Linked DNA regions of Homo sapiens: region 2 is linked to region 1. Evidence: fine-mapped expression QTL. A gene starts in region 1. The other region holds a variant in brackets. All regions are shown on one strand. Distances are between the middles of the regions. Region 1 holds the start of MROH2B (maestro heat like repeat family member 2B). Region 2 overlaps C7 (complement C7).

Region 1 (2,922 bases):
GGGATTGGGTAGCTTCATTTGACAAGTTACATTGAAAGGGGATGGCTACCACATATCCAGTGAGACACTCTAATTCCTTAGCAGGCTAGATTTAGGCTCCCTCACAAATATCTAGAAACAGTACTTAATTAGTTAGCACATGCCATCCTATTCACTTTGAGAATTCGTGTTTAGGATCCTCTTAGAGTCTTAGAGAAATCAAATCCATATTGTGTTAGCCTCATGCAATGAGAAGAGGAAGAAATAATGGGAAGATGTAACAAGCAGGCGACTGAAAAATGAAATAAAATGACAGCAAATCAGCTATTTTGAGGATTTGGGGATTTTAAAACTATCTGCAGTATTGGTTTCAATGAGTGAATTTACTTTGTCTGAAAGGATTTTAGCAAAAAGTTGTGTTTTGATTGCAGCGATGAATAAATTAAAAGTCAAAATAAATCAATTATCTCCTAACTTCTCTAATCTCTATGAAATCAAGGAAGTCTTTATATACAGACATACAGAAAAATCATTTGTCACCATTCACAAAAATATTAAGAAAATGGTTGTAACAATTACCTAAATGGCTAGCTTTCTTATTATTGATTCTGCTGTACATTGTTTTTTAAGACTCTAAGAGCACATAATTTCTAACATCATTTTTTCCCTTATAGGGAATCTGTTGTTTTATTTACTACAAGTAGACTTAACATCTTATAGATGTTAAGAGTTTCGGGATGCCTCTAATCACCCCAGTACCTCCCTGACTAACCAAACTTGGCCTATTCTTCAGTGAGTCATGATGCTGGGGAAGAGCTCCTTGCCCAACCACAACAAACATTCTTCAGTTAACTGCTATTTACTGATCCACTAATGAATGTTTGGGCAAGGACCTTGGTCAGTGCTTTTCAAAGTTCAGTGAACCTAAGAATCACCAGGGGCGCACATTAAATATATAGATTGCTGCCCCCTCATTCTAATTTACTGGGTCTGAAGTGGGGCCTGGGAATTCACATTTTAAATAAGGATACCAAGTAAATCCCATGATAAAGTCACCTGGAGACAAAACTCTGAAAGTGATGCTGACTTGGGAAGCGGAAAATGTTGAGGATCTCTTTAATACAGTGCAAAATGTCTATGAGAAGAATGATGAATTCAAAGGTTTAGTTGGAAGCAGTTGACCTTTGAATCTGGAATAAGCTTCACCGATGAAGTTAAGATGGCCAAAAAAGCAGCAGCAGATGAAAATTGTCATGAGCTCCCCTCCTCAGCCCATTCTACATTTAGCCCTATAGACTAGCAGTACTGCCTTCCCTTTCTCTATCATCCTCCATATTCACATAGAGTCTGGACATATATTGAAGATTGTCATCACATAGATTTATAGTTGGGGACCAGATTTCAATTCATGCTAGATAAGTTGAAAACATTATGGAAAATTGATCTAGATAAAAAATAATTTGAAAACAAAAAGAAAGCTGAAGACAGAGAAAAAGCCTGAGCCTGGAGTGAGGCCAAGATCCTGAACATGCCAGGGAGGAATTAATGGAGAGGGAGGTAGAGAGGTCTTCACTTTGCTGCTGTCAGTTGGACATTCCATCCAACTGCCCCTGAAGTGCATTCCAGTCCACTGAGCATGCTCAGTTCATATGACTGATTTTCACTAAGTGTAACAATCAACGAGTTCACCATAAAGCCTTTCCCAACATCAGGACAGTAAAGCAACTACTGAAAACCATTCCTGAATTTGTGATCAATGGACTCAAGTTTAGGGAGAGGAGCACCTTTGGTCTGCAACAATGGTTTGAATCCCAGTCTCTAATTACTTCTTTCCCAAATACTCTGGTCACCAAAGGGACAATATTTGGTGAGATGCAGCCATTTTGTTGGTTAGCAGGAGTTCAGACGCAAGACAATGTCATAGTGGTAGAATACAGTATCAACTTCAACAGCAAGCCCATCTCTGGAAGCTCCCAGACCATTGTGCCAATCAAGTGGAGGAGGCACTTTCATTTAGAGAGGCTTATGTGAACCTTATATGAGAAACTTGCCAACCTGCCTCTTTGATTTTTTAGCCTTACTATTTCTAATACTTAGGTGCTATCTTTTAGAGACCCTGAAACAGCCAAGACATGACACTTAGTACAGAGGAATCCATAGGTAAGCATCATCAGATCCTGAGAAGCCAAGGCTCTTCCCTGTGTTTTGTTTCTGTGGAATTATAAGTATATATGAGGGCTGGGAGTGGCGCGTCATTGTGGGAGGACTGTACACCTCAAAGGATTTATGAAATGGTATGCTAAATACATAATAAAATCATGCTGATTGTGAAGGACCAATAATAGACTGGAAGCCTAAGAGATGGTTGTGCTTTAAAATTTAGAGTCTACCTGAGGAGAAAGTGGCTACATATCAAAGAAAGGCAGTTTGTTATTTAATTTTAAATACTAGAAGAGTCCTTTGGAAGTATTTCTCCCAATTTCCAGGTATGGCTGCCTTTCTACTTTGCCAAAAAGATTGCCCTAAATGAGTATGTTGTTTGGTGTGGAGGTTAATAAGAAATCTTCATCTCCAAAAGTATTTCTCCTACCAACTTGCCATGTAGCTTGAAATTGCTCAATTCCTTTGACTCAATTTTTTTTCCAGTTTTCTAGAGTGCTTTATTCAAAAACATATATTCCTAGAAAATGCAAGTCAAACACATTTAGGTCATTGTCAGAAAACAGGAAGCCTTCATTAGCATGTGACCAAAAGAGGGAGTTGGCAGGCACAGGAGAATAGGTGGAGTTGAAAAGGGTATGGAAAAAGAAGATGGGAGAGGTATTGAGGGGAGGACCAGTGAAAAATAAACAGCTATGTTGCACCCCTGCCTTCTAATGCTTAAGTCAGGAGTGAGAAATTCACCTCATTGACTCTGAGAGCTAAATCCTGCAAGAGAGAATT
Region 2 (2,922 bases), 88 kb after region 1:
ATAAACCAGCTGCTCAGCACTTGCAGCTCTTAGCAGTTACAAAACAACTAGATGGTTCACAAGACTCATGTGAAGCTGAGATTAGCCATGATCTGCCCAGCAAAGAGGGCAACCCTCAATCAGATTAGCCAGTTACCTGGCTAGTTGCTAGGTAATCCAAAGTTCCGGGGGTCACTTGTCAGATTTCCTGCTTGGCACTCCACATCCCTACCATACCCTACCTGAATACGAAGAACCCTCCTTCTCTTTCAAGGTGATTACAAGTCATCCTGCACTGGGAAAGAAGGTTACATTAATAACAGTTTGAATGGGGCTCATTAAATCTCAGGGCTTAGAGAAGCAGCACTACTTTTGATCAATTAGGAAATACATAAGATGTCACAGGAAGGCACTTCTCAAAACGATTAGGAAATATTCTCAGGCACCTTCTCTGCCCAGGTAACTTGTAGCGTCCTCATGAGTGGTAAGCGATGATCTGTAGGATGTGCCTTGGCCTCCACATAGCTCCCTGAAGCTAGTGATGATTAATGCACCAGCCAATTTCCTTCTCTTTGTCTGTTCCTTCTGAGGGCCAAATGACTCTAATCTCAGCAATGCTTTCTGCCCTCTGCCTCCTCCAAGGCTCTATCCCCTTCTAACCCAGATGACCCTCACCTGATCTGAGGCACAGGAAAGGGCAGGAAGATGGAATTCTCACAGTCTTTATTCTTTTTCCATTTATTTTTGTGGTATAAAATCATTCCCTTAACTTTCCTCAAAGCCTCTCCATAGGTGTTCAAGAACTTATTTTGGAAGTTTCAAAACATTTTTAAAAATTTAATCTTAAAAATGACTTTCTCCTTGCTGACCTGCTGCGACAATCCTAATTCTCCACAGGCAATTGTGAATGCCTCTGTTGGACTAGAGGAAAGGTCAGCACAAGAATGTTCAGAAAAGAAAAGGAGGAAAAAAATACAGTATTTCAAGACAACACCTCTTCACGACAACATTCACTGCTCCTCTCCTTCTCCTCTCCTTGACTTCTCCTTCAATAACTCTGCTGAAATTCCTTTCTCAAACCTCTTAGTTACATCTACTCATTTCCTTTCTTTCAAACCTCAATCTCTGATGATATGTGATAATGCTGACCATATCCTCTGTATTATTTAGGAAGGGGGCATGGTGATACATAAGCGGTAGGAATCTAACTCCATACTAGCTTAAGCTAAGAGGAGAAATTATTGGAAGGATACTGAGGTATTTCCTTCCAAATGAATTACTTGTTCAACCTTTTGTCTCAGGGTCTGCATCCAGGCCTAGCATGTTCAAATGTGTCCTCCCATCCAGGGTAGAAATTAACTCTGTAATAACCGCTAACAAATGCAGTTGCAATGTCTGAATGTCATTGTTTTTAACCAATTGAAACCTGCCTCCTTGTAACTTCAACATATTATATCTGCATCTTCCCTTAGGGCACACTTTGATACAAAAAGCTAGATCTGGATCAGACATAAAACTTCAGGCAAGAACACATTAACCATTCATCATGAAAATCTTCTCTAAAATGAAACATCATACAAATGAAACAATTCTGAAGA[A/C]TAGCATCTTTAATGAGTGTTCTAATCCTTGTCATCTGAAGTTTTGAAATATATTTACCAGGGTCAGAACAATACAGAGATAGTATTTGTATAATATAGCTTATTTTAAATTTCATTTAAGCCCTCTCATTTCTCCTCCCACAGCTGCTGTTTTGTTTTGATGAAAGAGAAATAAGGAATAAATAAAAGGTCAATGCTTCAAACTAATCTACCTGTGTACTCCCTGAAAACTCTGGGACTGTATCCACAGAATAGGGAAAACTATTCTCAAATGCACAGTCACTCATGCCTCAGGCATGAACTGATGTTCTTTCAAAAGAAAAAAGAACAGGGGCAAACTTCCAGTCCTATGTTTGACACATACTAAAACCCCAAAGAGAAGACTGAATTGTATTTGTTCTCAGACAAGACACCCCTGTGACCACAGCATAATGAATTCTGCTCTAACATTTTAGTGGTTCAATCTCCCGACAAGAGTAAGTATTCCAGCCAGGCGTGGTGGTTCATGTCTGTAATCCCAGCACTTTGGGAGGCCAAGGCAGGCGGATTACCTGAGGTCAGGAGTTGGAGACGAGCGTGGCCAACATGGTGAAACCCCATCTCTACTAAAAATGCAAAAATTAGCTGGGCGTGGTGGCGGGCACCTGTAATCCCAGCTGCTTGGGAAGCTGAGGCACAAGAATCGCTTGAACCCAGGAGGCGGAGGTTGCAGGGAGATGAGATCACCCCACTGCGCTCCAGCCTGGGCAACAAAGTGAGACTCTGTCTTAAAAAAATTAAAAAAAGAATAAGGAATTCCTATCTGTGGTGGTTGACTCTATAGGATGAAGTGTGAGATTACTACTCAGGATAGAAATAGTTTGTATCTGTCATTTTTGTTCAAGTCCTCTTTATATTTGGTTCCATTGAGGAAAACCACCCTCTCTAATCAGGAGATCACGTTCTTTCTGTTATCCTAGTCATTTTGTAGAGTGTGTTCTGGCCCATGGGCTGTGTCAATCATACTTAATAAAATGATAGGCCTGAATGGAGCATTCAAGTTTCTCTAGTGCAATCCTCTAATTTTACAGATTTTAAAAAACCAAGGCCCAGAGAAGGTAACACCTATTTCAAGAACACGCAGCCAGCCTGTGCAAAGGCTCATATCCTTACTGACATTAAAAAGGAGGCAAAAGAGTAATTCGATTCAGATTTGGGAGAACAAAGGATTGTGTTTATACAGATGGCTGGGAGTTGAGGAGGAAGGTAGACACTGGAGAAGAAGGAAAAGCTGTCCAGTGCCCAGTTGTGCAGATGTTTTCACTCAGCCCCAGCTGCCTGCTGGATTCCAAGCAAGCTGACCAGG

The links.
Region 2: its variant is fine-mapped to the expression of MROH2B in atrial appendage (GTEx, PIP above 0.99).

What each region holds. Positions count from the first base shown.
Region 1 is chr5:41,070,042-41,072,963 of GRCh38, reverse strand. MROH2B (maestro heat like repeat family member 2B) reads left to right here and starts at 1,622. Exons shown (of 42, transcript NM_173489.5): 1 at 1,622-2,139. The coding sequence starts at 2,112. It overlaps LOC105374739 (a long non-coding RNA gene), which reads right to left and starts at 1,607. Exons shown (of 6, transcript XR_001742650.2): 1 at 1,036-1,607.
Region 2 is chr5:40,981,586-40,984,507 of GRCh38, reverse strand. It overlaps C7 (complement C7), which reads right to left. Exons shown (of 18, transcript NM_000587.4): 18 at 1-2,922. Among named protein-coding and RNA genes, the nearest start is that of C7, 74 kb to the right of the region's middle. The variant A/C (reference allele first, on the strand shown) is at 1,578.